5 separate regions of the Homo sapiens genome follow, and regions 1, 3, 4 and 5 are each reported to be linked to region 2. Evidence: microRNA targets listed by miRTarBase, many of them from high-throughput screens and not tested one by one. Region 2 holds a microRNA gene; each other region holds the end of a gene's coding sequence.

Evidence for each region. The annotated mature microRNA hsa-miR-4743-3p reads UUUCUGUCUUUUCUGGUCCAG and lies in region 2 at 2,139-2,159, opposite strand. An mRNA with a match to its seed (bases 2 to 7 or 8) in the 3' UTR can be bound and repressed. Matches are read on the target gene's strand: a 7mer-m8 pairs with bases 2 to 8, a 7mer-A1 pairs with bases 2 to 7 and ends in A, and an 8mer does both.
Region 1: miRTarBase lists PPM1N as a target of hsa-miR-4743-3p. Seed matches in the 3' UTR shown: 7mer-A1 at 547-553.
Region 3: miRTarBase lists VKORC1L1 as a target of hsa-miR-4743-3p. The part of its 3' UTR that is shown has no 7-base or 8-base seed match.
Region 4: the mRNA of PPP1R14C is a reported target of hsa-miR-4743-3p. Seed matches in the 3' UTR shown: 7mer-A1 at 1,018-1,024 and 7mer-A1 at 1,690-1,696.
Region 5: miRTarBase lists LMX1A as a target of hsa-miR-4743-3p. Seed matches in the 3' UTR shown: 7mer-m8 at 1,270-1,276, 7mer-m8 at 1,652-1,658 and 7mer-A1 at 2,284-2,290.

The regions. Positions count from the first base shown.
Region 1 is chr19:45,501,696-45,506,798 of GRCh38, forward strand. It overlaps PPM1N (protein phosphatase, Mg2+/Mn2+ dependent 1N (putative)), which reads left to right. Exons shown (of 5, transcript NM_001080401.2): 5 at 322-818. The coding sequence ends at 390. It overlaps LOC107985314 (a long non-coding RNA gene), which reads right to left. Exons shown (of 2, transcript XR_007067269.1): 1 at 4,990-5,103. Among named protein-coding and RNA genes, the nearest start is that of VASP, 3.2 kb to the right of the region's middle. RefSeq lists a silencer at 4,845-5,094.
Region 2 is chr18:48,667,704-48,672,806 of GRCh38, reverse strand. It overlaps MIR4743 (microRNA 4743), which reads right to left and starts at 2,207; the gene lies at 2,139-2,207. It overlaps CTIF (cap binding complex dependent translation initiation factor), which reads right to left. Exons shown (of 12, transcript NM_014772.3): 6 at 2,063-2,138.
Region 3 is chr7:65,953,451-65,958,553 of GRCh38, reverse strand. VKORC1L1 (vitamin K epoxide reductase complex subunit 1L1) reads right to left here. Exons shown (of 3, transcript NM_173517.6): 3 at 1-4,480. The coding sequence ends at 4,254. Among named protein-coding and RNA genes, the nearest start is that of GUSB, 26 kb to the left of the region's middle.
Region 4 is chr6:150,248,446-150,253,548 of GRCh38, forward strand. It overlaps PPP1R14C (protein phosphatase 1 regulatory inhibitor subunit 14C), which reads left to right. Exons shown (of 4, transcript NM_030949.3): 4 at 301-1,947. The coding sequence ends at 375. Among named protein-coding and RNA genes, the nearest start is that of PPP1R14C, 110 kb to the left of the region's middle.
Region 5 is chr1:165,199,674-165,204,776 of GRCh38, reverse strand. It overlaps LMX1A (LIM homeobox transcription factor 1 alpha), which reads left to right. Exons shown (of 9, transcript NM_177398.4): 9 at 737-2,910. The coding sequence ends at 897. LMX1A-AS2 (LMX1A antisense RNA 2) reads right to left here and starts at 730. Exons shown (of 6, transcript XR_922234.2): 1 at 630-730.

The DNA.
Region 1 (5,103 bases), not on the chromosome of region 2:
CCTCCTAAGGTAGCGGAGACTTGCAGCTCCAGGCTTACACCCCAGCAGCCTGTCCTCCCCAGTGGAGAAAGTTTGCCAATTTCCCCGGAGTTGCAGCAGTGGTCTTTGGGGGCTGGTTCTCATTGGCCACACCAGGTCACATGCTGACCAGTCACTGTGTCTGATTGGCCAGGCTGGGGTCGCACTTGGGGTTGGGGTCCACTCCATTCAAACCTTAATGGATTGTGAGATGGGATATGGTGGTCCCTCAAAGGAAAAGGAAGAGGTGCCAGGAGACAAGACAGAATTTCTCATTACCTTCTCCCACATTTTGTGTTACAGAAGGGGCAGGATGGGGCTGGGAAGTCCAACCCCACGCATTTGGGCTCAGCCTTGGACATGGAGGCCTGACAGCTGTTGTCCTTTGGGGATCCTTTGCTTCTCTGGGGCCTCAACAGAACTAAAGAAGAAAACCGACCCTTTCCCCAACTACATGTACCAGCGGAAGGAAGGAAGGCCAATGTAGGAACCCAAAATGCTTATTTCTTCTTCTCTTACTTCCCTCTCACAGAAAAGTCTTACGAATGGGGAAATTCCACCAACATCCAGACCAAAAAGAAAAAAGCCCAAATCGAAAAAAAAAAAAAAAAAAAAAAAAAACAAAAAAACCCAACCAAATGTTTTTGAAATATTCAGAGCCGAACAGATTCTGAGAGATAACCCAGTCCAATAACCTCTTTCCTTCTTATTACTCATCTGTTTTTGAGGGGAAGTAGAGTTTTGATTATTAAACTTTATTTACATAAGTGATTCCAAATACATTTTCTTGTAAAAAACAAGAAGACATGTTTTGCCTAGTCTGTTAGCAAATACGTTACAGGGCACCTGCTGTGTGCCAGGTCTTAGCCTCACAGTCATGAACCAGGCTGACCCACCAAGATCCTTGCCACTGTGGGGCTGACCTCTTGGTCAGGAGACGCAGCAAACAAGGGAATCAATAAATAAAGTCATCTCGCCAGGCGCAGTGGTCCACATCTGTAATCTCAGCACTTGGGGGAGTCTGAGGTGGGAGGATCACTTGAGCCCAAGAGTTCGAGACCAGCCTGGGCAACATAGCAAGATGCAATCTGTAATTTTTTTTTTTTTTTTTTTTTTTGAGACGGAGTCTCGCTCTGTCACCCAGGCTGGAGTGCAAGGGTGCTCTCTCGGCTCACTGCAAGCTCCGCCTCCCGGGTTCATGCCATTCTCCCGCCCAGTCTGTAATTAATACTAAAAAAATGAAGTCATCTTGCACACTGACAAGTGTCACGAAGAAAATAAAACAGGAGGATGTGTTGAGAAAATGACTAGGGGAGCTACTTCGGGTTTTTTACTTTTTCCAATTTTTAAAATTTTGATTTATTTAATTCAGGTAGTTTTGAATGGGTAATAAATTCACTTGGTTTGAAATGCAAAGAGTGCAAGATGGCATACAATGAAGTCTTTCTCTATCCCTCTCACACTTCAGCCACTCAATTTTCCGTGGTGGGGGAGGTGGCTTTTGAAACAGGGGAATCAGGAAAGGTCTCTGAGGAGGGGACAGTTGAGCAGAGACCTGACAGAGAAGAGTCAGCTCCGCAAATACCCCAAAGAGTGTTCTAAGGCAGAGGGAACAATCAGTATGAAGGCTTAGAAGCAGGATAAAATTTCCCCCCTTTTTTTTTTTTTTTTTGAGACAGAGTTTTCACTCTTGTTGCCCAGGCTGGAGTGCAATGGTGCAATCTCGGCTCACTGCAACCTCCGCCTCCTGGGTTCAAGTGATTCTCCTGCCTCAGCCTCCCAAGTAGCTGGGATTACAGGCACGTGCCACCACACCAGGCTAACTTTTTGTATTTACTACAGACAGGGTTTCACCATGTTAGTCAGGCTGGTCTCGAACTCCTGACCTTAGGTGATCCACCCAACTCGGCCTCCCAAAATGTTGGGATTACAGGCATGAGCCAGCCACCAGGTCCGGCCAAATTTGGCATTTTCAAGACAGACTTGAGACCTCCCAAGTGCGGTGGCTCACACTTGTAATCCCAGCACTTTGGGAGGCCGAGGCAGCTTGATTCCAGGAATTCGAGACCAGCATGGGCAACATAGCAAAACCTTGTCTCTACAAAAAAAAAAAAAGATCTCTGTGACCACCAAATTAACCCCACACTCTCTATCTCACTGGTAACCCTTGCAATGAGTTTAAAGTGGACTTTTTACATGTATTAATATATGGTATTCTGGGTGTTTCCTTGATTTTTTTCATTCCCTTCGTATCTCTGGCAACTTTTTATCCACTTAATGGATGTTTTCATTCTATGTCACCCACGTCATTTACACACTTCATGCCACCCGTTTTTTTAAGAGACAAGGTCTAAGTCTGTATCCCAAGCTGGAGTATAATGGCGCAATCATCGCTCACCACAGCCTCGAACTCCTGGGCTCAAGCAATCCTCCTACCTCATCTTCCCAAGTAGCTGGGACCACAGATGGATGATACCACACCCAGTTAATTTTTTTTTTTTTTTTAGAGATGGGGTCTCGGCCAGGCGCAGTGGCTCACACGTGTAATCCCACCACTTTGGGAGGCCCAGGTGGGCAGATCTTCTGAGGTCAGGAGTTCGAGACCAGCCTGACCAACATGGAGAAACCCCATCTCTACTAAAAAATGCAAAAATTAGCTGGGCTTGGTGGTGCATGCCTGTAATCCCAGCTACTTGGGAGGCTGAGGCAGGAGAATCGCTTGAACCCAGGAGGTGGAGGTTGCAGTGAGCCGAGATTGCGCCATTGAACTCTAGCCTGGGAAACAAGAATGAAACTCTGTCTCAAAAAAAAAAAAAAAAAAAAGAGAGAAATGGGGCCTCACTATGTTGTCCAGGCTGGTCTCAAACTCCCTGACCTCAAGTGATCCTCCTGCCTTGGCTTCTCAAAGCACCAAAGCACTGGGATTACAGGCATGACACACCTTGCCCAGTCCACACCTCCTTAAGTTGCTGCTCACTCCGTGCTTCAGAAAAGGATGTCCAAGGGTTTCACTATTCCCTGCCCTCATCTTTTTTTTGTTTTGTTTTGTTTAATTTTTTTTGAGGAGTCTTGCTCTGTCTCCCAGGCTGGAGTGTAGTGTCACGATCTTGGCTCACTGCAACCTCCGCCTCCGGGGTTCAAGTGATCCTCCCACCTCAGCCCCTCAGCCACCCAAGTAGCTGGGATTACAGGTGTGTGCCACCATGCCTGGTTAATTTTTTGTTTTTGGTAGAAACGGGGTTTCACCATGTTGGCCAGGCTGGTCTTGAACTCCTGACCTCAAGTGATCCACCCGCCTCGGCCTCCCAAAGTGCTGGGATTACAGGCGTGAGCCACTGTGCCCAGCCTCCCCTGTCCTCTTGATGAACATTTAAGCTATTTCCAATTTCTTGCTCTCACATCACTGCTACCGTAAAGATCGTTATGTACATATGCAAGCGTTCTCTTACACAGGGGTCTTGCTACCTGTTTTGTACAGCACTTAAGCTAAGAAGAGTTTTTTTTACAGTTTTTAAGCCTTGTAAGAAAAAAGAAAAACTGAAGAGTGTGTAAACCAGACCCTATGTCTAGCATATCTAAAATATTTCCTATTTGAACTTTTACAGAAAATGTTTGCCGGCTGGGCCTGGTGACTCACACCTCCAATCCCAGCACTTTGGGAGGCTGAGCCAGGCTGATCACTTTAGCCCAGGAGTTTGAGACCAGCCTGGGCAACACAGCTAAACCCTGTCTCTACAAAAAATTAGCCTGGCATGGTGGTGTGGACCTACAGTCCCAGCTACTCAGTGGGCTGAGGTTAGAGGATCGAATGAGCCCTGGTTATGCTACTGCGCTCCGGCATGGGCAACAAAGACCCTGTCTCCAACAAACAAACAAACAAAAAACCATGTTTGCTGACTGTTGTTGTAGTGTAGGTGGCACCCAGAAATGCCACCCCTCCTATGTCACAGATGGGAAAGCTGAGACCCAGAGAGGAGAACACAGTTACCCAAGGTCACACTGAACTGGTAACTCATTCAACTAGGTAAGTTTGTTGAGCTGCTGAGCCGGGCGGGCCTGGCTGGGGTGAGTGAGGTCCAGAAATTGATTAAGTCAACTGGGTGCAGTGGCTCATGCCTGTAATCCTAGCACTTTGGGAGACTGAGGCAGGCAGATCACCTGAGGTCATAAGTTTGAGACCAGCCTGGCCAACATGGTGAAATCCCATCTCTACTAAAAATACAAAAATTAGTTGGGCTTGGTGGCCCGTGCCTGTAATCCCAGCTACTTTAGGAGGGTGAGGCAGGAGAATTGCTTGAACCCAGGAGGGGGAGGTTGCAGTAAGCGGGGATCGAGCCAGCGCCCTCCAGCCTGGGTGACAGCGAGAGACTACATCTCAAAAAAAAAAAAAGAAAAAAAGAAATTTAGTCTACCCATTCTCCCAGACAACTCAGCCTGAGGAAACACACTGAGAAACAATGATAACCTCCGAGGAACAGGGTTCAAGGTCTCCCAGAGTGGGGTGGAGAAGGGGAGGGGAATTAATGTCAAAGCTTGGCCTGGAAGGATGACGTGCTCCCCAGGTAAAGGAGGTCAGGACAACATCAACATCCGGACATGGGACTCGGCTTGGACATACGCTGGAAAAGTGGATTCTCTCACATAGTCAGCTGGCCCTGAGAATTGTTGGTTTTACACTCAGACCTTGGTGGCTTTCCGGGTTCTGGGGGCTCAGGCAAGAGGGCCATAGGCCAGATTCATTCCCTGTCTCCAGGCCTCAGTTTACCCGTGTGTAAATGTGGAACTAACTGATTTCCCAGGGCTCGGGCGCCTCACCCGGGCCAGGTGGCGCTCTACCCAAGGGGCGCGACCAAATCAGTGACGTCACTCGGGGCGGGGCCGGCAAGACACGCTGCGGAAGCCTCAGAGGGTGTCTGGGCTCAGCCCGGAGCCGGCGTGTGGGGGCGGGGGCTCCCGGGAGGGTCTCCTCACCTCCGGGCCCTCCTGAGGGCTGGGATGATCCTGCTGTCCTCCGCAGGCGAAACTGAGTCAGAGCGGGGCGTGCGTGGGCCGGAGGCTTTACACACCAAAGAAGCCGGCGCCTCC
Region 2 (5,103 bases):
GGGGCCGGAGATGGGGGTCTGGGCCTCTGTGGGTTGAGAACATGCTGGGGACACAGCTGGTAGGATCTTTATGCCCCTCTTCTTCTGGGGTGCAGAAGTGGAGGGCAGGTAGGCAATGGGCTTGAGGCCAACCTCCCTTTGTCACCCTCTTTCCTTCTTGCCTCCAGGTAGGGAGGGGAGGCCAGCCCTGATTTTTGTCTAAGAAAGTCTCTAGGAAGCCCGCTTATCTATGTACAGGCTCAAGACTCCCATAGGAGGGCTGGAGGTCCTCAGGCTAGAGGTGGGCTTTCCCTCCCATTTGGGGGCCTTCAGCTGGATGCACAATATCTCCTAGGTGAATCTGGAAGTAGGAGGATGTTTTTGGTGGTCACTATGCCTGCCCCTCTCCAGTGACGGCCATTCAGTGGCAGAGGCCAGGAGTCCTAAATATCCCACATTGCATTGGACACGTCCATACTATTAAGAGTTGTCCCCACCACATATGCTAATAGCTAGGCCAGCTGACCCTCAGGACCCAAGGCCAGACGAGTGAACCAGCCAGCCCTATTTATGAGGGGCTTTGAAGAACACTAGGAAAACTCAGATAAGTCATCCCATTGTGCTCTCACAGGACCGCAAATTCCTCAAACACCAAAAGTCTGTGTTTGGGGATCAAGAAGCCTGTCTACCTTGTCCTAAGGGTACCCATGTGAATTGTAGATACTCCAAGGAGCAGTCAAGCCAGGAGCATTATCAGCCAGGACTTTAAGTTTTCAACTCTTGCTGATAATCAGAATTTCCTACAATGCTTTAAAAATGCAGATTCTAGCTGGACACAGTGGCTTATTAAAAAAGCCCACAATGACCTTCGAGAGATAAAAACTACAATGTCTGAAATGAAAAATATACTGAATGGGATTAACAGTAGATTTGACACTGGAATAAAATATTAGTGAACTTGAAGAAATAGCAATAAAAGCTATCCAAAATGAAACACAGAGAGTAAAGAAAGACTTTAAAAAATCAGGCAGAGCTTTGGTGAGCCATGGGAAAAGATGAAGAAGCATAGAATACATACAATTGGAACCCCAGGGTTGAGGGAAAGTAGGAGGAATCGTGGCTGAAAATTTTCCAAATTTGATGAAACTATAAACCTACAGATCCAAGAAACTCAATAAATCCCAAGTGGGAGAAACATGAAGAAAACCACCACACCAAGGCACATCATAATCAAATAGATGAGGTCTTAACTGTATGCTCTATTGTCTCTCATTGATAGGCCCAAGGCATGAACAGAGAAGAAACAAAATGGCAAAGGCACCAGGAAGAGATGAATGGATATAGATAAAATAGCAGGAGAAGAATCAGGAGAGAAGGGAAGGGTGGCACAGTGGAGTGTGGTGGTAGGTCATGGTCACTGGCAGCGGCAGACTCAGTCACTGTGGAAGGTCCACTGCTTTTACACCCCTGCAGCAGGCCCAGTCACACTCCTGAGAGCAGCTAGACTCCTGCTGTTTCCACCAAAAGTCCAGCACTATAAGTATCTAGAGACCTGGATTCACTGAGTGAATCCTCTTTGTCCTGGAACCTGGCCTGATTCCAGGAAAGAGGCCCAATCAATAAAAAAAAGAGCAAGCATAGCAGACACCTGGAGGCCAGCAGGGCAAGTCCACTGTTCAAAAGCCTAAAGACAGCCCCAGCCACATTAGAATCTCTTCCAGGCCTGCCAGTCCCACCTGAACACACCACAGGACACTTCACCTGCAGAGAGGTTTCAGGCCAAGGGACAAAAACTTCCAAGTTCACTGAGTTGCCAGGGCATGGTCTATTTCATCTCTAGGGCACATCAGGCCTGCCAGCAGGGCCTGCAGCATCACCGAGTAGGCTGTCACACACACGATCACAATGGGACACCCTGGAGAATGGCAGGTAGCCAGCCCTGCCTATTACTACCATACAGGCGGTTACACTCCTTGCTGGAACAAGCAGCCAGAAGGAGTGCTTTGGTTAGGTCCTGTCCAGGAAGAGGATCAGGACTCCAGGGGTGGGGGTGGGCTGTTAGAGAGCCTGCCCCTGCACCTACCTGCCAGGCTGGAAGGACCTTCTCGATGTCATTCAGGTTGATGCCATCCCCATCTTCCAGCTTCCCTTTGCCACACCTGGACCAGAAAAGACAGAAAGGCATTGGAAAGATGGCTCATTCATGCCTCCTGTCCCATCCGGCCAGCAGGAGAGGAGGGACAGTCAGCAGATACCTGGTGCTGCCCACCCTCAAGCCCTGCAGGGGCTGTCCCACCTAGAGGAAACAGCCCTAGAGAAGCTGTGTGTGTGTGGGGGGGGGGTCCTCCCGTAATGCAACAGCCAACCTGGAGGGAGGTGGGAGAGGAACCAGAGTTCCCCTTGCTCCTTCCAGGCAGAGAAGCTAAGCTCCTTACTCATCACAACTCCTGTCAAAGCCCATCCACCTTGCCCCATTACACTGAACAGAAGATCAGTGGACAGAGACACCAAGCAACTTTCTCAAGGTCACATAGGCTGGCAGGGGCTAGCAGAAAACCCAATAGGGCTTCCTTCCTTTTTGGCTTGACTCTGGGTCAGTCCAGCAAGCCCACTCAGATAGTCTATGCTTTGTCTTCATGTCCTCTGTGAGTGGGCGTGCCCTCGGGCCAGAGAGGCTGGCCCCAACTCCCTGGCCAGAGGTCTGAATCTTTGGCATATTTAAGGGTGCAGATTCCGAAACCAGACTCCCAGGGTTTGAATCCCCGCTGCATCCCTTACCAACTGGGGACCCTGTACAAGTTGTTTAACCTCTCTGTACTCATTTCATCAAATGAGTTTCCTCATTTGTTAAATGAGGATAATAGTGTCTAACATCTTAAGGTGGCTGGAGGATTAAATTAATGAATGTATCTGGAGTGCTTAGATGCTTAGAACTGTGACAGCCCACAGTAAACGGTACATATATACACACATATATAGTCTAGCTTATATATATATATATATATATATATATATATATATATATATATATATAAATGTTTAGCTTGTTTGTTTATAAATGTGTGTGTGTATATTTCTTGTGTATGTATTATTATCTGTATTTACCATTAAATATATCTTAAACATACACACATATGTTTAATGGTAAATACTGGTAATAATAACAAAATTAAAATAAATAATGAAGTAAATATATTGCTACTACTATGACTACTTTCATTACCACTAATATTGTTGCTGTTGTTTAGGCAAAGAGGCAGGAGGGTGATTAATTAAGGACACAGATTCTGGAGCCAACCCAGCCTCATGCAAATTACTCAATTTCTGGGTCTCCTAGTTGCTTCATCTATTGAAGAGAAGATGGTAACAGTTCCTCCCTCTCTGGGTGGTGGCGAGTTTTAAATAAATGAGGCAAACACTTAGAACAGAGGCTGGAGCATGGCCGGTGCATAGTAAGTATTGTCAGTTACTATTATTACTGGTATTGACTGAGGAATGGTGAGAGATGTCCCATGAGTTGGGTCATTTTCCAGCTGCAGAGTTCATACGAATCTCACCTTTCAGAGTAACTAGTTCATTGTTTAAACATTTACCAAGCATCTCTTCTGTTTTGGGCCTTGTGAACCAAAAAAAAAATCAGTTTTGGTTCCTGCCCTCAGACAGTGGATGGCCCTTAGAACAAATCCTAAACTCCTCTAACAGGGCTGGGTGCCGGAGCACCACTGGGGGCAGCACGAGATCGGTGTCATAAAAGTCCTATGGCCAGAGGCGCCCTGGAACCCAGAGGAGGAGAAACTAGCTGCAAACACCAGCAAAGGCCTGGGTGGAAGAGAACAGGGGGCTAACCCAAGCCCCATTTGATGGCTCATTTCTCCATTCACCAAACACTTCTGTGCCCGGCTCTGGACAGGGTCTGGGACCCAGGTGTAAACAGTGCACACAACTGCCCCTCTCGGTGTCTGGCGGGATAATCACCCCCCACAGTAGAGCAGCAAGTGCCCCGCTGGGGACAAGGGATCGTTGCAGGAACCCCAAGGAGCAGCGTCTAGAACTGTCTTGGGCGAGGGGCAGGAGGAAGGTGAGAGGTGAGCTGGCCAAGCACAGGGAATTTGGGAGGATGTCCCAGGCTGACACGGCGCAGGCAAAGGCCTAGAGTTAGGAGCATGTGTGGTGCCAGTTTGCTGTGGCTAGAGCATGTTAGGGGTCAGGGTGCAAGGGGTAGGCAAGGGGCATGGTGGAGCTGGGGTGGGGAATGGTGTGCAAGGTATAACAGGCATGAAGGAAAAGAAAAAGTTTCCCCCGGCCCCCGGCTGTCCCCACAACTGTGATGTGCTGGGGCTACAGGTGAGCAGGTGGAGAAAGGCCCGGAACATCCAAACATCTCTTAACTCATCAATCTGCCTGGTGCAGACAGGCTGGCCTGTGAAAGCACCAACTGCGTGTAGTCTTCTGTGTTCTGCACCCGCCTGGGCCATAGGGGAGGAGGGCACTGGGGACTTGGCTTGACTAGAATGGCTGATACCACCTCCCCAGTGTCTCCTGTGGGTAAAACACACCTCAGGACTCTCTCGCATGCACTGAGCTCCAAGCACACGCTGGGCACCAGCCTAGCACACTCCAAACACAGCTTTCTGTTCTCGCCTCAGCGCCCCTGGGGGTGGGCAGGTGGAGGCCTGCAGGGAGGGCTGCTGTCCCACGAGGCCTGCCCTCGTCAGGGCTCAGATCTCCCCAGAGGCCTGCAGGTTTGGAGGGCTGAAGGTGGCTACAGACCAGCTGAGTCACTGCTGCCAACAGGGTTTCCAAGGCAACAGCCTTCTCTGATTTCTGTCCCTCCATGGAAACACAGGCTGCAGGGAGCCTTGGCAACTGAGTGGTACCTGCATCCCAGGAAGGCTGCAGTGGCTGGCGCATGGAGTGTGTCCCCACTACAGCAGGACTCTAAGGGGGTCACAGTTCCTGGTCTGGCCATGAGGTGGCCACAGACACTGCACTCAGACTCCCTGGGAACCTGGGAGTGACAGGCTTTGGCTAGTGAGCCAGATATCCATGGGAGACCCCAGGTGACTCTCAGCAAATCTGGAGGCTCCTGGTGAGAAAGTGAGACTGGCCGAGGAATTTAGGCCC
Region 3 (5,103 bases), not on the chromosome of region 2:
ACAACTTCCACAGGTAACTTCTACATTTATTTTATACCAAAAAAGTTATGTGCAACAAATAAACATTCTTACATATTTACATTTGGTTTTATTTACCAGTTAGCAAAACAGTGCCTTAAATCTCTGATAAAGAGTATTTCTATCTAGATTAAAGGGGAAACCTGCCCAGTGAACTCCATTTTAAATGACTGTTTACTCTGGAGCTTAAAGCACTAGTAAGAAATATTTCTGATGGAACATACTACACAGATCATATACCTAATAAATACTTAGGCCATGCTTAATACAGTTTTATAACAAAATATTTCACCTTTTCTGGGCGAATTTGTAGTAAAAAATGTTTAACCAAGTAGCCGGGGCTCCCACCCTTGCCCTTTTTGTTTGATGGAAGGGTAGTTCTCACAATTAGAAACCATAAGTGCTGCCTGAGGTGTCTGAAATGTTTCACCCATGACTGTGTGTTAGAGAAAAAGACACGAGGACAGAAATTGCATATTAGGTCATTAGGTCTTTTTCCCCAAATAGGTTACCAGAAATCACAGTGGGTCTCCTTGTTGGCATCTAATAATGATCTTCCAAGACAAGATCTCCTGTCACTCTTGGTACCAATCTAAGTTGTGAAGTAATTGCTGAAGATAACTCTGTACTTTTGCAAATAGTCTTTTCCAAAACTAAATGAAAAACAAAAGTCAACAAATAGTTTTTATTTTTATTTTTTTATTTGAGACAGAGTTTCACTCATTGCCCAGGCTGGAGTGCAATGGCGCAACTGTGGCTCACTGCAACCTCCACCTACTGGGTTCAAGCAATTCTCCTGCCTCAGCCTCTGGAGGAGCTGGCATTACAGGTGCCGCCACCATGCCCAGCTAATTTTTGTATTTTTAGTAAAGACAGGGTTCCACTATGTCGGTCAGGCTGATCTCGAACTTCTGACCTCAGGTGATCCAACCGCCTCGGCCTCCCAAAGTGCTGGGATTACAGGTGTGAGCCACCATGCCCAGCCAGCAAACAGTTTTAATTTCACTGTAGTCTTGGTCCTCTTTGAATGCAGTCTCTCTCTTTTTTTTTTGGGGGGGGGACAGTCTCGCTCTGTTGGCCAGGCTGGAGTGCAGTGGCATGATCTTGACTCACTGCAACCTCTGTCTCCCGGGCTCAAGCAATTCTCCTCCCTCAGCCTCCCGAGTAGCTGGGATTACAGGGGTGTGCCACTGCGCCTGGCTAATTTTTGTATTTTTAGTAGAGATGGGGTTTCACTATGCTGGCCAGGCTGGTCTTGAACTCCTGACCTTAGGTAATCCACCCGCCTCGGCCTCCCAAAGTGCTGGGATTATAGGCGTGAGCCACCGTGCCCGGCCGAATGTAGTTTCTTTGAATGAAAATAGTCAATGCTTTGAACATCATTTGAAAGTAATGAATTTAAGGAGAGGACACATGTATGAAGGAACAGTGATTCTGGGCACACAGCTAGTTAAACCTGAGTTATTTCACCGGAAATTTACCTTTAGTGAGAGCAACTAGCTGTAATGCAAAACAAATGAAATCCTCCAAATCACCTAGATTCCCTAGAATTTATCATCTAACCCCAATTCCTGTTATTTCTTCAAATGATATTTGTGAACATCAAGTCAATAAATGGCTTCATTTGGAACAAATCACTTAAAAAAGATGAGGCATGGAATTACTGCTAAAAACAAATGTTTCCCCTCATCTGTCCTTTAACACTGGTGGCTAGTAATGCTGCAGTGTTCAAATATTCAGTCTAAAACAGGCAAAACAATCTTCTAATTTTGTAACACTGGTGATTCCCCCCCTCTTCTGGGCAGAATCGGAGGTATAGAAAGGAATCTGAATTCTCCAGGGCAAAAAACACCCAATTAACACCCACCAGGATTCTGTTACTGAGACACTGGCATTACAATGCTGTTATGACAGGCAGTACGTGTTCCTCTCTCAGTGAGAAAAAGGGTATTAATTCGACTGGGCCATAGGAATGTGGCAAAAGTTTTTATACAACTGAAACAGTGGTTTCCCCGAGGCTTAGAAAAGCAAAGGAAAAACTGGAAGGGTCTGGCTGACCATTTTGCCATGTTTTCTCAGGTAAGAGTTGAAGACATTTGCAAGAATGCAACATCAAGACAAGCTTTAACTATACTCTGTTGATTGATACAAAATAGGATGAAAAACCATTGGATATTGGGACACGAGGAACTTGTTTAGCACAACCGATGTCATGTATACCACAGTTTTAACCATTAGGCCATTTCCACTGTAGCTTAGAAAAAAGAACCAGAGGACTGCCTTGGTAGAGCTGGATGCGCTGCTACAAGATGGCCTCACTGTACAGCCCTCAAACGTGAGGACTTCTTTCTCCATAGACACCAGATGGCCAATCAGTACTTTCTAGAGTTCTTTAACTACTTCAGAATGCAAGAACAGTACATACATACTCCAACAGCCATTGAAAGATTCACATTCATGGGAAAACACAAGTCTTGATGAAATCTTGACTTAAGCTCTCTTTTAAGAAACTGGTTGAAACTGGTGAAAAGTTCATTATGATTTGGACTTGATACCTGCCTCGGGCCAGAAGACCTACGTTGCATCAATTCTGAGTCAGTTGGAAGCTACGGAATTGTTGCTGACTCTACACATTTGAGTTTACAGAGCAGAGCCCGTCCCCTCCCTTCAAAGAGAAGGCAAATAAAGCACTCAAGAGATACTGGTCTCATTGACTATTTTCAACATAAAATGATTAATCAGGTTGGAAGCAAAAACATTACTGCTGCTTCTCAACCAGAGGATTAAGTGATCACACAGGACCCTTCTGCAGAGTGCAGGTTTTCTACCTGACGGTGAAGAAAGGAGGGAAGGACACTTCTTCTGCCCAAGGTCAACACACAAAATATTTGGTTTGAGATTTAAGACAGAAGGCACTTTTAACATTCTGATATCAGATGTTAACCATACAAACATCCTGTCACAATTTCATTTGGGTGTACTCAAATCCCCTTACAAAAGTCTTCTTACTGCATGTGTGTCATTATGAGAGCAGTGGCGACATGAGCAGATTTAGCCTTGAGATGTGTCTACCTGTTGCTATTCTCCCGATGAAGCAAACTGGGCAGCATGTCAGCCCTGAAGGTTACAAATCCAGTATTTGACTGCAAAACAATTAAATTAGACATCTGAGTGGTTAGTGCAGAAAGAAACAATTAGCAAGAACACTGGCTCCCACTCCGGAGCGATGGGGCTTGGACTGGTCTTTTCCATCATAATACTCTTTGCTTGACTGGCACCAACGTTAAGGAAAAATATCTGCATGAAAATTCAACTAGTGGAAGAAACTTTACCTAAAAATGCCATGTTTATATTTCCAGCTTTTCTCCAAAGAAAAATACCCATTTTCCCATCCTTAGTGTCTGAAGGCCTTGGACTTGAAGGTCTGGCCACATGACTCATTCTGTAAGGTTAACAACTGGCCCAGTTTTATGACTGAACACAAACTGGACTTGAACGTTCCAATTCAATTTTTTCCTTTCAGAAGAGGGAGATGAAAGGGAACCGACCACCCTATTATTATTTTTTTTGCCCTATTATTTGCTGCAACCACGGCTGCCAGTACTTTTCACAAGATGCTGTGTATAGGCTATTTTCACTATCTCCTCAGTCAACGCTGAGCTGACAGTTCTTCAGTGCTACACTCCAACTAAACTGTACAGTAAGTTCTGCAGAAATGGATCTAATATTTCTACCTTTATTTACAAATATCACAAATGGATTCTAGTTGAATCTACATGTTTAAATCCATCGGCTAAAAACATATTACATATTGTAAACATGGCAATATTTAATACAGTATCTATTCTAGAATATTTTCATGTCATGATCACATTTGTTATACCTGAAATTGAATTTATACACATTAAAGAATTACTAGCAATGGTTGCTCACTTTACAATTGAGGGCAGGGGGCTAGGGCTACATTTTATCATTTCAGAAACACTTCAAAGTAAAGTTAAAGCTTGTCTTTGATTGGCTCGGCGTATCCTTTTTGTATCCATATTTAAAATGAAGACTGACACAGAAAATAGCGAGGGCCCCTTCTAATTTACCGGATTTTTAAAAATCAGTTTGAGATTCTTAGGGAAAGTGTCTGTTGTGAATAATAATAATAATAATAATAATAAAAACCTGCTGCAAAATAAACTGAATGGAAAGGGGCTTGAGACTGTTAGGGTGGAGTCTGTCGGGCGTCAGTCCTGCTTGGGTTGCAGCTGCCGCTTCCAGGCCTCGTTCAAGTAAACTAGTCGTTTGTAGTTGATAATGAGAAGAAGGAAGTTCAGCACGTACGTGACGATGCAGATGATGCAGAACTCCTTCAGCACAAAGTACAGAATGTAGGCCAGGTACAGGGACCCCACGACCGACATGATGGAGGACGTCATGAGGATCAAAGCCGCCACAGCGCTTGCTGTCATGCCTGTAAGAGAAGAGACGCAGGCTCAGTCAGGCCTTGGTGCTGGAGAGAGGCTTTCTGAGTGACAAGGAATAACACTGTGTGACTTGCTGCAGTGTTTGAATACTGATCTTCCTGCCAACTCTGAAAATTGAGAACAGAAATACTGCTCTGTTTTGTTAAAATTATACAGGTTGACTCTGCAGTTGATAATGCCAGGTTTTGGGGTTTTTGAGATGGAGTCTCACTCTACCGCCCAGGCTGGAGTGCAGTGGCACAATCTCAACTCATGCAACCTCTACCTCCTGAGTTTAAGCAATTCTCCTGCCTCAGCCTCCCAAGTAGCCAGGATTACAGGCACGTGCCACCACGCCTGGCTGATTTTTTGTTGGCCAGGCTGGTCTCCAACTCCTAACCTCAGGTGATCCTCCTGCCTCAGCCTCCCAAAGTGCCGGGATTACAGGCATAAGCCACCATACCCAGCCAAATGCCAGTTTTATAGCTGTGATGTTTTTGATTTCTCAATCTTTCAGGTAAAACATTACTAATTTCACAAACTAGCCTAGTTGAAAATATGCACACAAAGAAAACATGCAATCTCACAATCACATTAAGCAATGAAGCTGACTTGTAACATCAACAGCCCC
Region 4 (5,103 bases), not on the chromosome of region 2:
ATGTTAAATAGCTCTGATCTCAACACAAATGCCTCAGGGGCCAAGTAGGTCATGTCAGTAGTGAAAGTAGCCTGGTTTCCCCCGTAAAGAAAGTAGAACAATAAGAAGGCATTGTGGTGTGAAGTTTTAGTATTCTTGATTTGTTTTTAAAAATCCTGTATTATACCAGTGGGGGTTAACACATTCAACCAAATTCATCAACTAAGGTTAACTGCAGTTGACATCAATTACTTTAAGCAGATTTTTAAACACAGAATTTTAATAGTGACCCTCATATTAACTTCTTCTGATCTCTTTTAGGAATTTATCAAAGAGCTGCTTTCTCGGATAAGAGGCATGAGGAAACTGAGCCCTCCGCAGAAGAAGAGTGTATGATTCTGGAACAGGGTGAAACTCTCCCAGAGACGAAGAAAGAGTCCTGGGATTTGTACTTCATGAAGACTTTTGTGAAAGAATAGGTGTCCTTATGAACAACGTTTTTGTTTTTTTTTTTTTCTTTTTTGGTGTGAAGGTGGGGGGGTCTATTAGACATTTATTCAAGAGCGTTCTTTTTTTGGTTTTAAAGGTTTTTGTTAATGTAATATTTTAATAGCAAAGATATCATGACTCTAGCCACAGCCTAACCAAGGATTATCAAAGGAGGTGGACACTCAAGGAAGGGCCACGCCAGGCTGCGTTTCCTGCAAGGACTCAGATGTTCAGTACCTTATGATACAGGGAAGATAGTTTTCTTACAAGTAGTTTGGTAATATTTTTTTTCTTAAGTTGTACATTTGACTCAGCTGTCAAATTTCTCACACTTGTATATATCTACACACAACTAAGTTAAAATGTTGATGTGAGTTTTATTTCACATGGATGGAATAAACTTGTGGTTGTCCTTTAACTGGAGGTCCCAGCACATGTGTTTTCAAGAGGCCACTAGGCATTCTTCACTGAGTGCTGCTGACTTCAACGTTCACTTTATGCACCAAAGTGAAAGAATTCAGTGTATCCGTTATTTTAATGCACTACACCACAGAAATGTTAAGTTGGTCAAGGGCTTAATTTATGGAATTTCTATTATTTCATTGGTTGGGATGCTTTGCCAGGTCATGTGCTTATTGTCTCATTTTGTAGTCTTTTAAAGTTGTATGAACCCTTAATTTGAAGAACTAACTTGATTTCTAGAGAAATATCCACACTATCTCAGTGGTATTTTGCATTGGAAAAAGGAAGCACTGTGTAGCAGTGAATTGTCTGCTTTCCACCGAGTACTGTGTTTATTCTCTCTCCAGGAAAGCAGATCAAAAGAAAGTTAGCAGATCGAGTGTCTTCTTCCTTAGAAATAGGTTCTGGTAGCTTCTGTGCCTGGGTAGTATCAGACCAGTGGGAGTAAACCGAGTGTTAAGTGTCAAGGTGAGAAAGCCTCACATTCTCTCAAGACAGTTGCTCTAGGAGCTGAGTTGCTGGTTTGGAAGTGTGGAGATTGCATTTCTGGCTTCTCTCAATGGCTTGTGTTGAGGACTCTGGGTGCTCCTGGCCCTAATTGTGCACCCTGATCCCCGTGCTTGGAGCTAGGCCTGGTGGCGTGCTCTAGCCCTCTCAGTTACCAGCTCTTTGGAGAAGGATCAAAATTCAGATGGAATGTGGGATGGGTAATAGGTGAGAGTAGAAACCCTTCCCTCCAGGAGGCCCCCGCTGACTCCCACAGAAACCCACCTACCATAAGATGTCTTCAGGTGGCCTTGTCCAAGGATGGGGGTCAGGCATTTTATATCAAGGGTGCTCTGAACATATTTTATTTTTTAAAAAAACTATGTTTGTGAATTTTGCGTATACTGGCAAGCTTTTGAAAATGTATTTAATTTTGTATTGTTTACCAATGATTTATTTACAAGATATTTACTCAAATAAATGGAGCTGCTTACAAGCCTGTTGACATGTGTGGCTTGCACAACACGTTAACATGATGGTTTTGCTGTGTCAGTTTCTCTGCAGAGGTGAGGACCAAGCACCTCACCTCGTTTCATTTCATTTTCAAGGATTTCTAGGCATGTAATCCTGGCCCTCTCCTCAGGCATCTTCAGATCAGGTGGTGAAAGCAAAGGAGCTGGGCCACATTCTTGGGCTGAGAAAGAAGACGAGCTCTGTGTGCTCAGCCTGGCACTGTCCTAGGCCATGCTCCTTTCATTTAATTAAAACTCCTCTTTGCCATCTTACAAGAACCCTCAAAAACATTTCAAATTAGTAAACTATTCCACTTGTTAGAATGCCTTGCACCATGGAAGTCGGAAAAATACAGAATGGGCAGGATTTCTGTTAGGCTTAATTGACCAGCCCATGTGATGGTCTCAGATGAAGTAAGAATTGACTTTTCCTCCAAAGGCCTCTGCTCCCACCACACACTTCCTCCCCACCTTCCCTCCTGCCCTGATCCCCGTGAGTGCTTCAGCAAGAAGTTTGGGCCTCTTCCTTGACTCCCCAGTATGCTCCCAGTCACCCAGCTTGTCCTCTGTGAATACTTCTCAAACCTATCCCATGTCCAACTTTCCTGGATTGCTGCCACCACCTTGGGAACAGATTCTCCATGTCCAGGCTTGTCTCCCTCTGATCCATCCTCCACCCAGTTGCTAGAATAGTCTGACGACTCCACCCCCTGCTTGAAACCCGAACCCTCTGCATGCCTTATGAGAAATGTTGTCTCTGCCTCTCCCACCTCATCTTTTGGCCTTGTGCTCATGCCCAGTTCTGCCAAATTCCTTGGAGTTTCTGGCGTGTTCTATGTATTTTCTTCTCTGGTGCTTTGTAAAATCTGTTGCCTTGGCCCAGAACGCCCCCTCTGCCAACAGGCTGTATCCAGAGAGCTGGGTTAGACCCCCTCCTAGGTGTGTTCCCCCTCAGCTCCAGCCTATACTCTGTCATAGACGCATCCACAGTATCATTATTGCCTATCCATTTGTTGGTGTCTTCTGTTAGAATCTGGGATCCTCGAGGCTGGGAATCTGGACTTCACCAAGCATCTGGTCCTAGGCTTGGCCCATCAAAGAGATTGTGTGTTTGCCAGTTGAATGAAAATGACAAAAGATTCAAGAAAACTCCACTGTTTTCTTCCCAGCTAGAGTTGTGGTTCTTAGATCTGAGTGTACATTTGAATCACTGGGAAGCTTTAAAAACAATGGAAGCCTAGGCCTCAGTCAATTCTGACCAGTTAAATCAGCGTCTCCAGGACAAGAGCTGGGGTGTTTGTTTTCAAGCTCTCCAGCTTGCGCATCGCTGGGCCATTGGGTCACTCTTGTGCCATTGGATGGCCAGATGCATTAGCCTGACCTCAGCTCTCCATGTTTATGCTATTACAGCAGGTGGCAGCTGTGGTATTAGCACACTCACTATTTCTCATACAGAGTCTTCTCACTAGGGCAATGGCTCCAAATTATCCAACTTCTAGTGCCGCGCTCACTTGAACATTGGGAAATCTCAATGTAAACTTCATGGAGTGGCTTCCATTTATAACGATCATAATAAAAGCACTGTGCTAAGTGCATGCTTTATCTCATTTAATCCTGACCTTAACCTTATGAGGCAGGTGGCATTCTCATTTTACAGATAAGAAAATAAACTCAGGCTTAGCAGCTTACCTAAGTCCACACAGCTACAACACTGAGATTCAAACCCAAACCTATTTGGCTCCAAAGTCCCATAACCATTAGACTTTCTTGCCACTCTTAGGGAATTACTCTTAGTCCCACTCACAAGAGTGAACCCCAGAAGCCACATTTAAAGTGAGCCAGGTCCCTGAGCTGGCAGGGTAGGGGAGGAGGCCTTGTGGATGGAGGAGATCCCAGCCACCTGTGGGGCTCTTCCTCACTCCTGGGAACTGAGGGACTCCCTGCTCCCCATCTGCAGTGCAGCCAGGCCCTGTGATGCTGGCCCTCCTTATCCAGAGTCCTCTTGCCTTTTCCCCATAACATAAAGCTCCTGGACTTGGGCTTAGCAGCTGAGCAAGGAGTATCCAGCCATCAGTTTCCTGAGAAAGAGCAGCTCAGGACAAGGTGATTTTCAATTCCTGAAACACAGGAATTAAACAGGTTTTTACTTATTTATCACTGACATAGTTTGGATATTTGTCCTCTCCAAATCCCATTTTGAAATTTGATCTCCAGTGTTGGAGGTGAGAGGTGTTTGGGTCATGGGGGCAGACCCCTCATGAATGGCTTGGTGCCATTCTCCTGGGATTGAGTGAGTACTTACTCTTAGTTCCCTCTAGATCTGGTTGTTAAAAAGAGCCTGGCACCTCCTCCCCTCTCTGTCTTACGTCCTCTCTTGCCATGTAACAAGCCGGCTCTCCTTCTGCCGTGATTGGAAACTTCTGAGGTCCTCACCAAAAGAAGATGCTGGTGCCATGCTTCCTATACAGTCTGCAGAAGCACGAGCCAAATAAACCTCTTTTCTGTATAAATTGCCTGCCCTCAAGTACTTCTTTATAGTAACACAAACAGCCTAAGACAATCACCTAAAGTCTCCATAAAAGATTGTGTGCTGTGCAAAATCAGCTTTTGGAAACCTAAGCTGTTTTTGACATGACTGCTGTTTAGCAAGAGAGTGGCAGGTCCACAGCTACTGGACACATCCCCATCCCTACTCAGCCACCCTATTTTTGCCTCTGAGTGAAAGGTTCTGGGGCTTCCCTCTGCTTCCTGGGAACCTTTCCTGGAATCTAGCCACTTTGAGAGTGAGCCTGTGTAGTCATGAGTCATATCTGTCCCTCTATGGCCCCTATCTACTTCCTTTGACTCTTGTCTTTGGGTGCTCAGAGTCAAGGAGTCAGCACGCTTCAGTGCTGCTGCATAGCCTAAGAGAGAAGTGCTGTGGGTGGCAGGGACCCTTGTCTGTTGTCTAAGAAAACAAAACTCCTATCGGGTAGTTGGAACTTTCTGAAAGCCATTTTCAAATTGGACACAAGCATACCACTATTTTCCCCTACTGGTTTCTCTTTGCTTGAATTAATTTTAACCCAAATAGTCCTGGAGAATTATTCCTCAGAACTAGTCTCATTTCCTTGAGGGCTTGGGGTACAACCCACTGTGTGTTTGTAATTTGCCTGTGAAAATGGAGTGGCTTCTC
Region 5 (5,103 bases), not on the chromosome of region 2:
TCAGAGTCTCAGGGATTGTGTTACATGAAGTATCCCTGTGATGAGTCCTTTCATAAAATGAATATTTAAAGCCCCATGACAAGTTGTATAAACTCCAGTTTTCACCTCTCCTATTTACTTGAAGCAGAGGCAGAACATTCTTTGCCTCCAGATCCTGGTTGCAGTGATTTCTCAGCTGTTCCAATGTGTGCCCTACTGGCTTCCCTATCAAAGGTGTAAATTAGTTGAAGGTAGGCACCTAACCTTCCTTTTCTTTGCATTACAAATTTGGGGTAACAGCTGATAGTAGACCCTTGGTGTTTGAAAGAACAAATGTTATCACAGGAGTTTTCATTAGCTTCACTCAAAGAGCTTTCTTTTTGTTTTGTTTTTTTGTTTGTTGGTTTTACCATCCCTCCTTCAAGCATCATTTTTCAGGCCCAAGTCCTATAGGAGCTCTGCCCTGTCTCTCCAGCCTCTGGTGACATGTCCTGCCTACTCCCCACACTCCCTGTCTAGACATTGTGACATTTGCTTATGCTGCACTCAATTTAGCACTTTGTCATATCCTGGTTTAGATTGTTTTCACTTGTTGCACTTTGGACTTGAGCCCCCTAAAGAGAATATAGACTTTTTGTAGAAAGTTTCACCTGGAGCCTGTGCTCAGGCAACACTTGTTGAATTCAGCTGAATATCCTAGCACTGAAATGAGTCACTTCTTCAAGACCCTCATGCCAGTGTTTCATCTCCATTTCAGGTGCCGAGCCCCTTTTCCATGACCTGGATAGCGACGACACCTCCCTCAGTAACCTGGGTGATTGTTTCCTAGCAACCTCAGAAGCTGGGCCTCTGCAGTCCAGAGTGGGAAACCCCATTGACCATCTGTACTCCATGCAGAATTCTTACTTCACATCTTGAGTCTTCCCCTAGAGTTCTGTGACTAGGCTCCCATATGGAACAACCATATTCTTTGAGGGGTCACTGGCTTTAGGACAGGGAGGCCAGGGAAGAGGTGGGTTGGGGAGGGAGTTTTGTTGGGGATGCTGTTGTATAATGATATGGTGTAGCTCAGCATTTCCAAAGACTGAATACATTATGGATTGCATAGTTTAATGTTTCTAATAAGAGTCTTAGCATTAGATATGAAGACGTGTTTATCATTAAGGACAGAGACTTTTAATATAGACATTCTCATGCAAACTAGATACTTAGGGACTCCTAACAACTTCCCACCATGTCGGGGAAGCTCTTGTCAAGAGGTGCATATGTCTATCCATCTACACACCAATAGACAGAAGGACAGATAGATAGATGTGTGTGTGTGAGTGTGTAACCTTTCGTATTTTACCCTCAAAGTTTATTCCTAATTATAACAGACACCAACTGTACAGCAAAAGTAACTTTATTTTCAGTGTGAACTATATTTAAGGAAATGCTTGATGCACTTAAGTTATAAAATGAGATAATTTACTTTTATAAACTTTATTTTTAGCTTGACAAGACTTGTCAGCAGGGCAGAGAGGGCTGCTCCACCTAGCCCCATAGCTTTGAGTGCTGGGGTTCATTCTGTTTTCAGAGTGTCTTTCAGATCTGGAAAGAAATTCTGTGTGGCTGATGGTGTTCTCTCTTGCATTCTTGCTCTCTTTGGGGTTGAATCACTGGGCAGGGGTGGGACAGAATAATCTCTGATCATGTTCTGAGAAAATGTAAAGCCCAGACTCCTGGGCTTTCTTTTAAATTCTGACAAGTGGTTGTTGGGCAGTGCTAGGATGATTGGTTCAGCTCTTGAGCTTCAGCATCTGCAAATGTGGATGAGGCTAATAGTATGTACCTACCTCACTGGGAAACACCAAGGCTTAATTCATTCCCAGGACACATGAGCAGGGCTGAGACTAATATCTGATATTTGTTTAAGATACAACCAGGCCACTCACTTGGCAAAGGAGGGTACATAGGGTTGCAGAGCAGGAGGGCTCCTGAACTCCAGAGGGCAGTTCTGCCTGCTGAAGTCCCTCTGCAAAGCCTGTGCTGAAGGAGACACCAGCTCAGAGCAGTTCAGAGGGATCCCAGAGTCCCAGAGTGGGGAGGAGGTGAAGGCTGAGGGGATAGAGGAGGGCCTGGTGGTGTTCTAGAGCAGGGTTGGGCAAACTCCTGCTTGCGGGCCTGCTTTCTATGGCTTGCCAGCAAAGAATGGTTTTTACTTTTTTTTTGAGGTCATTAAAAAAAAGGAGAAGAAGAATATATAACAGGCTGTCTGTGGCCTGGAAAGCCTGAAATATTTGCTATCTGTATTGTCTGGCCCTTACAGAAAAAGTTTGGGGCCCCTTGTTTTAGAGGGTCTGTTTCTAAAGAACCTCATGGCGCTCATAGAGGCAGAAGGTTCCAGTGGAAACCCTTGGCTCTTCCTTCCAACTCACTCCTCTGATCCTCGGCACAGAAGACCCAGCAGCCATTGTACATGGGGACAGTTCCACACCCTGGTCTCCAGTTGCGGTGCTAGGATGGTATTGTTCTGTGCTAGGAAGTCTCCTGGGAACCCAGAATGAGTTGGTGGGGAAGACAGCGGGTCACTGTGGACCCATCCAGGAGGGGCCAGGATAGGCTTGGCCTCATTTCTGGGGACATCATTGGAGACTTGAACACAGAGACACGTCCCTATCACTCTGGCAAGGCCAGAGGGAACATGTCCCCTTATGGTAGAGTCTATGTTGTGTGATTTTTGTGCTCTTGTTTATAATTTATGCAAACCACCAAGAAACCCAAACCAGTCTGATGAGTGAAAATTATGCAGATGCTGTATGGCCCCACAGGTTTCTGTGGTAAAGACCAGTTGGAGAATGTAGGAGATACTATGTGAGTGAAAATGAATAGAGATCCTTATTCCACTCCTTAATGGCATACCAAGATGAAATTAAAATCTCTTACAAATGAGCTGTTGTTTATTCAGGGGTGGGATGGTTGGTGGGGAACCAGGGGGATGTGGGAGTTTTGTCTACAAAGCCATGGGGATGAGCTTATGGCAAAGCTTTGAATGAATGGAAAGGATGACTACAGCAAAACATAAGGAGAAAAGGGTCTTCAACTTCTTGCCAAGATGGACGAAGACTCCAGTCTTTACAAAAAAAACCCCACAGAAGGAGGCAGTGGGAGCTTTCCATCACCACCGTCAAGTTCCCTCAGGGCAGAGCAGTTTGTGATACGTGATGAGGGAACATTTGCTTGGAAATCAGAACAGAGTGATGGGGCAGGAGAAGGATTTCTCATGCAGGCCTGAAGGCAGATGCCTAGCCAGGATGGGAGAGCCAGGCAGCAGATCGTGGCTCCCTGACAGAGTCTCCCAAAGTTCTCAACAATTTTAAATGTGATGTATGGTGGGCAATTAGGACTATGGAGAAAAGAAGTCAGGAAACAGTATGGAGATAAGACCAGGAGACATACTCACAGGGTGGTATTGTTTTTTGTCTGTTTTCTCCCCCACTTGCATTTGTTCAAGGCCTGCAACCTCTACCTCTGGCTCACTCACCACATGTTAGAAGCTGGCTCTTCCTCTTGCTGAGGGCCTGGAAGGAGAGAGATATGTATTATAAGGCCAGGCTGACAGGAGGAGCCCACTGAGGAGGCCTTATCTCAGACTGGCCTCCACTGGGCTGGCCTTAGTTCCTAACTCCAGCTTCCTGGGAGAGCCTAGGCACAACCCCTTTACCCCTCTTATTTGCCTAGTTGGCAACTACCTAGTCTTCAGAATCAGCATACTTGGCCTTCTCAAGCCTACAAGGCTGGGTTAGGTGCCTATATGGACTACTTGGACTAATGCTCCCTGCTGCAACAAATAAACCCCCAAATATTATAACAGCTCAAACACAACAGAAATTTATATTTTTACTCACATAAAAGACCTGGGAAGGAGTTTGGGTTAGAAGCACACCTCTCTTCCATGCACAATGAAGGCTCTGCTCCTGGCTTCCAGGCTTTCACTGGGGATTGGTTGTCTCCATTCTTCTTTTCCCCTTCCCACTGGAAGTGGATGAGTCTAGATTGCAATCCCAGCTCCTGAACTTACTAGCTGTGTGGTCTTGGGCAGTTTCCTTCACTCTGCTGAGTTGATTCCTCAGGGATGGTACTTGTGGCTACCTCAGGGGGGTTGTGAGCACAGGTGAGATAATATGTGTGAAGCACTTAGCCCTGCACTGGGAGTATGGTAAGGGCTAGATGAGTGTTAGCTGCTGCACCGCAGGCCAGACCTGCTCTTGGAGTTTGGTCATTGATGAAAGGCTGCTGGGAGTCTCAGACCCTATCTGAGGAAAAAGAAGAACACATCCTGGTTCACCTGAGCTCAGAAGGCATCACTTCTCACCATCACCTCCTCAAATCTCAGCGTGTGTCTTACAGAGCCTGAGCCAGAATTGTGGGGGAGTGGTTGCTGTTTTGTTTTAAAGCATGCAGATAAAATTCCAATTATGATGACACATTCAGATCTCTGACCCCCAAGGAGGAGTCAGGTCATAGGAAATTCCTCCAGCCACCTATTGTCACCTGCTTTTCATGACCTGCATGAGGGGGAAGGCCTTAGGGCTAGGCTCAGAGTGGAGAGCCTGGATCCACAGGTTGAGCCTTCACGCCTCAAAGGGCCTGTGCCTAGGCTGTCTCTGAAGAAAACGAGTTGACCTAAAATGAATAAAAAATGGGAAGAAAATGGAGTTAATTTGTCAGTTCCAAACTCAAAGACAAAATAAATTTTAACTGAATTGCAAATGAAATCAAAGTTTGTCTATCTATCTCTTTCACTCTCTCTTTTTCTTTCTCCCTCTAAATCAAACTAGGATGAAACCTATTAATAATATGATTTCACTAGAATAAAACTGTACCCTCAAGAATTAAAACTGAATCATAACTTGACACCCTGTTTCCCTGAATCCCTTTATTTGGCATGTTTCAACATTATGTTCAGTGACAAGGTAAGAGGTATCTTTAGGGCTCAAAAGAAGGCCTTGAGATTTTTTATGCTAAAAGTATATTCCTTGATGAGGAGATTACCTGGCTTTGAAGTTCCCTAGATGTATAACCTTAACAAGATGCTGAGCCTTCATTTTTTCATCTATAAAATGAAGCCAATGACACTTGCAT